3 linked regions of the Homo sapiens genome follow. The protein of the gene in region 3 purifies or fractionates together with the protein of the main gene of each other region. This does not show direct contact. Each region holds a gene or a part of one and is shown on either strand. Other genes may lie near its edges.

What was found.
Region 1: the proteins of PRSS37 (region 3) and ARSK purify together in Homo sapiens (affinity purification with mass spectrometry; one large-scale study listed by BioGRID and IntAct). This does not show direct contact.
Region 2: the proteins of PRSS37 (region 3) and AKAP1 purify together in Homo sapiens (affinity purification with mass spectrometry; 2 studies listed by BioGRID and IntAct, with this or other methods). This does not show direct contact.

The regions. Positions count from the first base shown.
Region 1 is NC_000005.10:95,568,545-95,572,196, reverse strand, and holds part of ARSK (arylsulfatase K precursor), read right to left. Parts: intron 1-3,652. UniProt on the Homo sapiens protein: Catalyzes the hydrolysis of pseudosubstrates such as p-nitrocatechol sulfate and p-nitrophenyl sulfate. Catalyzes the hydrolysis of the 2-sulfate groups of the 2-O-sulfo-D-glucuronate residues of chondroitin sulfate, heparin and heparitin sulfate.
Region 2 is NC_000017.11:57,091,720-57,095,371, reverse strand, and holds part of AKAP1 (A-kinase anchor protein 1, mitochondrial precursor), read right to left. Parts: intron 1-3,652.
Region 3 is NC_000007.14:141,838,534-141,842,654, forward strand, and holds the start of PRSS37 (probable inactive serine protease 37 isoform 1 precursor), read right to left. Parts: upstream 2,953-4,121; 5' UTR 2,517-2,952; coding exon 2,483-2,516; intron 1,817-2,482; exon of another isoform or gene 1,732-1,816; intron 947-1,731; coding exon 805-946; intron 472-804; exon of another isoform or gene 403-471; intron 1-402. UniProt on the Homo sapiens protein: Plays a role in male fertility. May have a role in sperm migration or binding to zona-intact eggs. Involved in the activation of the proacrosin/acrosin system.

The sequences.
Region 1 (3,652 bases), on a different chromosome or scaffold from region 3:
ACTGTGCAGCCCATAGCGATCCTAGTATGGTGTGGTGTGTCATATATAATAAGGGACACTTAATTAAATTAGTGTTCCTAAACTGGTACAAGAAGGAAGCATCGCTGATGCCTAAAAAAGACAGATGGAAGTATTATAATAATAAAGAAACCTGTAATTCTGGCTGAAAATATAAGCAGGTTCAAAAATGGCCAATTTCAGTAATAAAGAATTATAATAACTTGCATTTTGATTTTGAAAGTCAATCTATCAACAAGACTGAATGCCCCTATTTATGAAATTTGATATTTGAGAGACCATGTTTTGTTCTGAGACCCATTTTTAAGTTTACACTGAAAAGTAATGTGCTATATAATTCATATAACCTTCAGACATGCTATTAACAGCAACCTTGACCTATTTGTCAGCCAAATGTCTGTGTGGGTACATACAGCGCTCATAAAAATACTCCTGGTGGCTTATTTCAATTTCCTAAGCTCTGATGAGAGTGTGAGTAAATGAAAACATGCTTTAAGCAAGTATTGCACTGAAAACCATCTTTGACATCCCAAACATCAACATCTAAGTGTTTTTTTCCTCTACTAATTTTAGAATTCCACATGACAAAGAAAGAACTCCTAAATATTAATATTTAAAGAATTTTAAACAGTTAAAAACAGGATATCCTCTATTAGTTGTAGATATATACAAAATACTAATGAACAAGTGATATGATCCTGTGTTACACAGAATATCAATGTTTATCAAATAATAAACTGTAGGTACTTCAAAATAACTTTTTCATTCATCAAAAATTTAATTATGAACCTACAATGTACTGGCACTATGCTGGCAAATGGGAATAAAGCAGAGAAGAAGAGATAAGGTCTTTGCTCTGCATGGATAATTATCCTGCTGCGGAATATAAGTCAGGTCATATTTTAACCATGTCACATAGAAGAATAAAAGTTACAGGGAATATATGGCATTCAATCTTAGATTTCTTTTATTATAAACAGTTGTATCTTACTTTAGATTAAGCTTACATTCTAAAAAGGAGAAAGATTTTAAAGAGAAATTTGTGAAACTCCATAAAGTAACTAGCAATGCAAAGCACTTTAGAAAAATGATGGTTATGGCCGGGTGCAGTGGCTCACGCCTGTAATCCCAACACTTTGGGAGGCCTAGGCGGGCAGATCATGAGGTCAGGAGTTCCAGAACAGCCTGACCAACATGGTGAAACCCCATCTCTACTGAAAATACAAAAAATTAGTTGGGCGTAGTGGCCCATGCCTATGATCCCAGCTACTCAGGAGGCTGAGGCAGGAGAATCGCTGGAACCCGGGAGGCGGAGGTTGCAGCGAGCCAAGATCACGCTATTGCACTCCAGCCTGGGTGACAGAGCGAGACTGTGTCTCAAAAAAAAAAAAAAAAGATGGTTATATAAATGTTAGACTGCAATTCTGGTTAAGCCATTTTCATAATAATAATCTTTCCATTGAGTAAATGCTTAATCTGTGCCAGGCACTGTTAAATATTTTATATTATTCCGCTTAATCCTTGTATAGTATCTTTTAACTCATATAAAACACAGTCATCCAATGAGGTAGGCATCATAATTCTTACAGATAACTTACAGAACACTGACACTTAATGCCAGGTAACTTGCCCAAGAATTCTTACAGAACACTGACACTCAATATCAAGTAACTTGCCCAAGGTTACAAGGATAGTGAGCAGGGAAGCTGGGTATCTGACTGCTCTGATGGACACAAAGCCTGTGCTCCTCCTCCTACATGTACTTCTTCTCCCTCCCTTTCTTTCTGATATTAGCAGGGAAGAGTAGGGGAACAAGATTTTGCACAGAGAAACTAGCTCATGCAATAGTCCAGAAGTAGTGAAAAGCATATTAAGGAAAGTTTTAAAAGACCAGGTGCATACTGAGGGATGGAGAGAGTGGTATGAAATGAGACTGGAGGTAGACAGGGGCTAGATCATGTAGGGTCTCATAAATCATGTTGTGGATTTGGGATTTTAACTAACCTGAAGAGAAAAACCATTGAAAGATTTTAAGCAAGTGTGTCATGTAATCAGACATACATCTAAGAAAGATCATTCTGGTTGCCTATAGAAAATGGGTCAGATAGAGTAAGAAGAGTCCAGGTAGAAGCCCATTTTAATAGTTTAGGCAAGAGATGACAGTAGCTTGGTGGAGAGAGTTGAGAAGTGAGTAAGTTGGAGAAATAATTCAGAAGTAGAACTGACTACATTTGGCAATGCATTAGAAGACAGAGTAAAGAATAGGAATGTCAGGATTGCTTCTGCATTTCCTGTACTGCCATCTTTTAGATTTTGGAGGACAGAAAAGGGAAGAAATTAAACAGTAACTAGGAGAGCAATTTTAATGTTCAGATTATTTTAGATTATTTTAGTATCTGTTTACCCAAAACTCACTGTATTCATCTCCTAGAACTGTCAGAATAAATTATTGCAAACTGTGTGGCTTAAAACAACAGGAACCTGTTCTCCCACAGTTCTGGAAGCTATAAGTCTAAAATCAAGGTGTCAGCAGAGACACATTCCCTCTGAAGACTCTGGCAGAATTTTTCCTTGCCTCTTCCTAACTTATGGTGACTCCTGGCAATCTTTCATCCTTTGGCTTGTAGCTGCCTCACTACTATCTCTGCCTCTGTCTTAACATTGTTTTCTTCTCTGTGTGCCTATGTCCTTGTTCCTCTTCTAATAAAGACAGCAGTCATGATTTCATCTGGAGATCCTTACTAATTACATCTGCAAATAAGGTCTATTTTCCAATAAGATCACATTCTGAAGTTCTTTCTAGGTGGTCACGAAATTTGGGGGAACATTATTCAACTCACTACATTCATCAACTATTTTTGTTAACTTAATTTTTTCTTATTATTACTTATCATCATCATTAGTATCATCATCACCATCACAACAACCATTACAAATAACCCTCAATTAGCACTTGCCTAGGTAAGAAAGAGGCACTGTAATCCCTAATATGTATTCGTGTTGGGGTTCACAAGTGTTGGGGGATCCCAAGATCACACCGAAGTTCAGTAGGAGGAATTGCAGGACCCAGAATACAGCTGCGCTCATGGCTATAATTTATTACATAAAAGGATACACAGCAAAATCAGCAAAGGGAAAAGGTGCTTAGGGCAAAGTCCAGAAGAAACTAGGCACAAGTGTCCGGTTGGAGTCTCAGAGGACATAATTCTTCCACCATCAAATTGCGACGACACATGTGAAGTGTTGTTTCTGCTCATTAGAGAATCAGTACCCAAGTTTTTTAGGCGGGGGTGCTGATTATATAAGCACCCTCTACTTCGCACATACCAAAATTCCATACTCCTGGAAGGAAAGCTGGTATTCGGCATAAACCACAATGCACAAATGCTCCAGGCACACAATAGGCCACTCTTATCAGTTAAGGAATAGTGGGAATACTCCAGAAATCCAAGTTCCTAGATGCCAGACAGGGGCCAACCTTCCAAGCAGGCCTTTCTAAGGAGAGCAGTCTCAGGCCTCCTATGTTAGCTCTTTTCTGAACTTATTGATACATTTAATCCTCACAGCAAAGAAATTAAAGTACAGTGTCAACATTTAGACAATGTGTCCAAGATCAGACTACTACAATGCTAGT
Region 2 (3,652 bases), on a different chromosome or scaffold from region 3:
TATAGTGAGACCTTGTATCTACAAAAAAAAAATTTTTTTTTAATTACCCAGGCATAGTGGCGCACACCTGTAGTCCCAACTACTCGAGAGGCTGAGGTGGGAGAATTGCTTGAACCCAGGAGGCAGAGGTTGCAGTGAGCCGAGATCGCACCACTGCACTCCAACCTGGGCAACAGAGTGACACCTTGTCTCAAAAAACAAGCAATGACCTTTTCTCCAGTGGGCCTGTTACTGCCACTCTCTGCTACTGACCAACTGAAAGTTTTGTCCATAGGACATGGAAGTGCCCTGTTAGGGGTGAAGGAGGAACAGAAAATGGGGTGCCAGTGTCCTCAGACTAGAATGTTCTAGTATCTTGGGGTAGGAATGAGAGAATATAAGCCTGAATGCCAGCATTATGGGAGCCAAGGAGAGTTGGGATGCCCCATTCAATATATAGACTTTCATTCAAGACCCATCTTCAGCCAGGCACGATGGCTCACACCTGTAATCCCAACACTTTGGGAAGTTGGAAGATTACTTGAGCCCAGGAGTTCGAGACTAGCCTGGGCAATGTGGTGAGACCTCATCTCTACAAAAAAAAATTTAAAAGAATTAGTCGGGCATAGTAGTACATGCCTCTTGTCCCAGCTACTGAGCAGGCTGAGGTGGGAGGATCACTTGAGCCCAGGAAATCAAGGCTGCAGTGAGCTATGATGGCATTACTGCACTCCAGCCTGGGGGACAGTGAGACCTGTCTTTAAAAAAAAAAAAAAAAAAAAAAAGTTGGGGGGGACCCATTTTCACCACTCCCTGGTACCCAAATCCAGATCGCCACATTTATAACTTCTCTAAAAAGTGAAGCCAGACCTTCTGCTGGCCTGGCCTGGCGGAAGGGCTCCACAGGCCTAGTTGTCTGCTGACTTCAGCCACCCAACTGAAGGCCCAATCCATGCCTTCAAAGGTGCCTGTCCCTGCATGGATCGGCTGGCTTCTTGTGGGCCACAAACCACGCACACCTTCTCAGCAAGCTACTGAACGATGGGCTCCCCCAAGACAAGGAAATCAACCAAGAAAGGAGGGGCACTGGATCCAGAAACGAGACAAGAGAAGGGGAGAGGGAATTCCAAGGCTGAAGGGGAAGCAGAGCCAGGGAAAAGGGATGCGCCCAGGAGAAACGTGGAACCGTTGCGAGTACCTGGTATGTGGAGCCACAGTGAGAGCCACTTTCCCCCAATGACAGGCATTCCACAGCAATGGTGGAGGCTGCGAGGTGGTCAGGGAACTGGTGAGAGAGACAGAAAATTAAGCAAAAGAAACTAAGGAAATTAACTAGGAGAGGAGAAGAAGAAAATGAAGGAAAAGAAGAAATATGGGAAACTAAAAACCTTGCAGCCATAAACAAGGTTCATATTATAATAATGTATATTCTGAAGATCAACTTGACCAAAACTTGGGCTATCTCTACACTGGGATGATGAGGGAAGAAAAAAGCATAGGAACGAGCTAAATCCTATCTCCCACAGCAGAAAAACAAATCAGATAATAATCCTTAAAAAGAAAGAAAATAATACTACTGACAATGGTGGGGACAGCTGGAAGAATTGAAAGTAATGGGGGTGGGGGGCAGTGGGCAAAGGACTGTCCTTTCAAGCCTTGTACACAGTCAAAAGCCAAATCCTTTCTACAAGTAATGTTTTGATAGAAAACACGTTATTAAGATACATACAAGTAGCAATGCATGCTCTATTACCACACAGCTTTATGTTTCTTATTAACCATCCTAAATTTGCATTAATGTCAACTCATCTGTGTACAAACTTGTAAGGCCTTATTTTCCTATAATAATTGATGCCAATTTTGCTTCAGAGACCCCCAGCTGCCCAGCTGACATAATAGTAATATCAAAAAGAGAGCATGCTTATTGACAGGTTAGATCCCTCTGGAAGCAAGGCATTGAGGGCTAGCCAGCATCAGATGGCTGGACCTCTCAGGGCCAGTCATTTAACAAAGAGTTTAACACGCACTGTGAGCCAAGTTCGCTGGGCACATAAGGCAAAGAGATCCCTCAGGAAGCAAAGGTGGAAGGAAGGGTAGAGAGTCAAATTACAGGTAAGATACTGCAAAGATTCCGCGACTTAAATATAAAGACCTGCAGCCTCTCTCAACTGATTGAGAGAACTGAGCCCTAAGGCTGCCCTTGCATGTGATGAATTACCTATATCCCTGTGCGTGTAGCAGGGCACCAGCTGGGAGAGTTGAGGAACGGTCACCTAGTCCTTTTCTGTGTGCTGTGGTTGAAATGAGAAAGGCTGGATGGAGCACTTGGAAGGGGAAGCTGCAGACAGAATGAGGCGGGAATGCCTCTTGGAAGAGGTGGCATCAGAACTGGAACACTTGAGAACTGTGCCAAGATCTGGGGGGAAGCAGGAGGAGAGCGGGGAGAAAGTTCCAGGCAGGAAGAACATGTGCCAAAGTCCTAAGGCAGGAACAGGCTTGGCTGACTCAAGAGGTAGCAAGAGGGGAGGTGAAGATGAGGCAGAGCATGGCTCTCAGAAAAAGGGCTCTCCAACATCACTGCGCGGAAGGCCAGTCGGACTCGCAAGAACCCCAAGGGACACGGTCCACCAAACTTTCTCCAGAGGGGAAAGCGATGTGCCTGAAGAGCCAAGGGGCTTTAGTTCTTAATTAATAAGCAGAAGCTGCTTCCAGACTTGATTCCTGAAACAGGATGCCTCTGTGGCTGGTAGCATGACAGGTACACTGTGTAGGTAAACAGGGGCTTGCTTTTACCTTTAAGTTCTCAGCGAATACACTTGCCAGGAAGCCCTGTGGCCACACCACACATTAGCCTTACAGAGCCACCACTAAGGGTAAGGGATAATAAGCCCCCCTTACTCTCAGGCTCCCTCAAAGGAACCTGTTCCAATAAGGCAGTCCAGCCCCAGGAGGCGGACACACACAGCCTACGTAAGCCCTTGCCACTTCTTTGAATCAGACTTTGCAAAAAACAACCTTGCTCTCCAGCCAACATAAACCATAGGCAACAGAGGGCCTTATAAGGCTTGAAGCTTTCTTAATCAGAAACAGTTAGATGGGCTGGAGTTAGCAGCTCCAAGTTAGAGGGAAGGAGGAACTGAAAAGGAGAGAAGAAAGGGTGGCCTAGGGAACCAGCAAGCTTGCTGGTCAAACTGCTTTTTCATCCCTCTTCAGCTTCTGTGTCATCACAGTAAAGAATTCTCACCGGGGGTCTATGGCCATGCCTCCTTTCATGTTTGCATTTTGGTTTAAGCCAGAGGAATCAGACTGCCCACCAATCCACACTATTAGAGAGTTTTTAAGTGTCCATTTAGTGGCCAGCCTTTAGGCTGGGCAACTTCACACAAAAATGAAGTTATGGGGCCAGGCACGGTGGCTCACACCTGTAATCTCAGCACTTTGGGAGACCAACATGGAATGATCACTTGAGCCTAGGAGTCTTGAAATGGGTCTGGGCAAGGTGATGAGACCCCATCACTACAAAAAAAATTTTTTTAACTAGCCAGGCATCATGATGTGCACCTATAGTCCCGGGTACTTGGGAGGCTGAGGCAGGAGGATCCCTTGAACCCAGGAATTCAAGGCAGCAGTGAGCTATGATCGAGCCACTGTACTCTAGCCTGGGTGACAAAGC
Region 3 (4,121 bases):
CTCTGCACCTTTGGAAGGGGACATATATGGATTTAATCAGTGGGCTCTCTTGTCCTCTGGCTTCCTTCTATTGGCCAATAGGAAGCACCAGAAAGTAACTGGAGGAAGAAGAGTGAGATTGGAGTACTTATCCTCCCAGGTCCCTCCCTGCAGTTTTGTCACAGAGTGGCTGTGCTCCTTGACTAGGGGTTACAATCCTTATCAGGCTGTCTCCTCACACAGGTCTCGCTTTTTCTCTATCTCTCCTTGCCTCCTTTGAAATTATCTTCTCCTCTTGCCTTTTTAGGCCTAGAGGTGGTAACTGCATTTTCTTAATACAAACCCTGGTGGTATGGAACTATTCTTAATATTGTCCCTTTAATGTCTCCATACCTTTGCAATTGGTTCCTTCTTAAAACTCACCTCAATTGACCCAATTTGAGTGCATCATCAGTTACCTGCTAGATCTTTAAGTGATAAAATGCATTCATACTGCCAGTAAAAAAAAAAAAAGAAAAAAACTTATGAGAGTCTGAGGAGGCATAACATGTAACACAGGGTTCCTCAACAGTGGCACTATTGCTGTTCTGGGCTGGACAAATCTTTATTGTGGGGACTGTGCTGTGAATTGTAGGATGTTAAACAGCATCTTTGCTCTAGCCTCTCCCCATTAGATGCCAATAGCACTGCCCCCTGGTTGTGACAACCAAAAATATCTTCAGACATTGCCAAGTGTACCCTGTAGAGAAGTTACCCTTATATGAGAACCACTGATCTAGAATGAACAGTAGCTGTTTTGGGGATGGGGATGCCCAAATACTCAACGGTAAATAGCAGTGAGCTGGGGCCAGCACCCAGCTGGGTTTGATGAGGACGCCCACACAGGGGTTGAAGTGAGACTTGAGGTACACCAAATAGGGAGCAGGGTCTTCTTTCTGAACAGATGAGTCAGCAAAGAAAAATGTCCCTGAGAAAATAATGAACATTCTTAATACATAAATATTATAAAAATAAGGTAACAGTCTCTTACTTGAAAAGGAATCTGGATGATTCTTAAACAGTTATCAGTTGGCCAAGAAGTGTTAACGTATTTGACATGTTTTTCTAATAAAAATGTAAATTAAAACGATATGCCATTTTATCTTATATTTATAATAATTTTGTTTAATATTGATAATATTCAATCTAAGAGAGTATAATGAGAGACACTCATCACTGCTAGTAAATTGATTCCATCTTCTTGAAAAGCAATTTAGAAACAGGCATCAAGAATCATAAATTGTTTATAACCTGTGACCTAATCATTCCAACCCCAAGAATCCATTCTAAAGAAAAAAATCAGATATAGACAAGGATTACAAACAAGTATGCTCATGTTAGCTATAACAGCTGAACACTGGAAACATAAATATCTGACATAGTAATGTTGGACATTGAAGCACATCAAAAAGTGGAACATCATATATAATAAAAATTAAACTAATTAGAATATTAAACAGCAAAAGAATATTAATGCTTATTTAAGTTAAAAAGAACAAGAAAATTGTGGATATAATCTATTTGTCTAAAAACAAATAAATAAAAACATTTAAATGCAAAAAATATATAGATTCTGAGAGTAAACTCAAAGTGTTAGCATGTGTTGACTAAGAGGTGGGATTATGAATGATGCTTATTTTTCTACTTTAAAAATGTCTAAATTTTGTAATATGAACATATATTGTTTTTATAAATGAATTATTTAAAACATACCCTAGAGAATAAAGGGGAGGAAGGCTGATTCTAGTATCAGAAATAAAGCCCTCTTCTTGTCTTGGCTTCTCTTGCTACTCCTGTTAACCTTCCCCAAGACTGGGTCTGTACCTCACCACACCCTTCTGTGTGATCACACAGTTAGAAACCCCAAAGAGAAAAGGGTAGACTGTAAACAAGGGCAAGAGACATTGAGCTCTCTATAGCAGGCATTGTTCTAAGTGCTTTACATAGATTTATTTAATCTTCACAATAGCTCTATAATATGGGTAGTCATACCCCCATTTTGAAGAAATTGAAGCACAGAAGAGTTAATTAACTTGGCTAATCTCACACAGCTAATGTGTGATACAACCTAGGCAGTCAGAGAATGGTGGGAAATGCCTCATCTGCAAATTCTGCTGTCAGAAGAACCCCATGTGGGGCAAGGACTACAGAAGGTAGGGTCCTAGTACTTGATCTTTTGTTTCTACTTCTCTGTTTTCTGCATTAGTGTCGGTGGGAGGACACTCACTGTTAAGCCTTCTCCAAGGCACATGTGTGCCTTAACCCACCCTATAGCTTAACACTAGAAAAGTGGGCTCAGCCTATCCGGAGAGCCTTTGGATGGAGTCTGAGAGGCAGGACTCCTAATTCTGCTGATGACACTATTTTTGACTCTTTTTCTGCACCCTTCGCAATCCTGCCTCTGTCTCACCCCATCCATTAAACTGTGCCTTACAGGACAGAGTACAAGGTCTTGAGTACATACCAGCGAGGACACCCAAATAGAAGACATATTTCATGGTGATCCAGCTCTTCCCCCTGTGAGATGTAGAAGAAAATCAGCAGAGTGTGGAGCGGTTGGCTTAGTTGTCTTCTCAGGAACACCTGGTAGACTCAGTGGCTATGGTTAGATACGGAGGCACTCCATGGGATTGGAAAGCAGCTCTGGGCATAAACAGGGGAGGGAGATGGCTTCAGAGAGACAGATGAAAGCCCTCTGTTCCAGGGAAGGTGGAGGACTGTGCCTCTGTTGGGGCATTTCAGGGAAGGAAACTCCTGGATTCAGCTCCTTCTATCTGCTGCCCCTAAAAACACATCTGTTTGAAGGTAGTTCAGTTGTCTGTGGAAATGGCAGCTCTAGGCTCAGGACTTATCTTCCCCACAGAGTTTCTGAGACCAGGGCTATGAGGGACAATATTCTTTACCTTAGCTCAGGGAGTAAGTGTCCTGAGGTTTGCTCTGAACCTCCTAATAGTTACTTATACTTTCCCCAGCCCCTCCCATCTTTGTTACACTAGCTTCATATGTCCCTCTGATCACTGTTTCATCACTCAGTCATCATCACCAACTTGGTGTTTTTTGTCCTGAGCAACAGCATTGAGCCAAGAAAATATGGAAATGAAAAGCATTCATAGAACAGTTATCTTGATAGTTGGGGAATTGTTTACAGTCTAGATGACATTAGGCCTGGTGACAATTCAGAAGGCAGTACCTCTAATACTTAAAGACTTAGACCAATATTAGACTACCAAAGTCATCCTTGGATAATTGGGAGCATAGTCTAACAAGAAAATGAGCGGTAACACTAATAGCTGATATCCTCTAAGCATTTACTGAATCCTAGGCACTGAGCTAAGATCTTTACGGACTTGTCAGTAGAGATTTTATATCAGGTTAGTCTGAGATGTAAAATTCACTACACTTTGTATCACTCTAACCCTTTAAAGTTTCTTAAACCCATAATCTCTTTCCAAATGTCACAACAACCCTAGAAAGAAGAGATAGGGCTGGGTCTGGTATCTATTTCTGGTCTGTGGGTGGCAGAACTGAAGCAGAGAGAATCTAAGTAGTTTTCCCAAAGTCACATGTCGTGGACAATGAGAAATAGGCCTTGTCACTGGTGTAGGGTTGCAGGTCCCCCACCAGGATACTTAAGGGTGTATGACCACTGCTTGAACCTTAATGGCTAAGTAGTGAGTCAAGGACACGGTGCCCAGCCAAGAAGCAGGTATCCTTGATGGCCAAGTGGTGAGTCAACGCCATGGTGTCCAGCTGAGGAGCAGGTGTCCTTGAGTACCCAAACATCCCAGAGAATACCTGAGAACCTATCAAGGAAAACAGTCCCATCATGCACACACAGTAGGCAAAGAGCCAGAAAATTAGCTTAAAAGCAGCTTAGAGATGGAAAGCAGGGCAGGTCTCTAAAGGTGTCCTCTGCTATCTAGGAGTGTCTCATATGTAAGTCCTAATAAACTTATCCACTGGCCAAGCTGGACTTGTCTGAGTCATTCTTTGGTCTCTTGGCTCCCTCCTAGTTTGGGGGAAAGGTTTTTTTAAAAATATGATTCTGGATTTTTCTTGTTACAATTGGCATCACAAATGGGGTCAGAGAGACCAAACTTCGA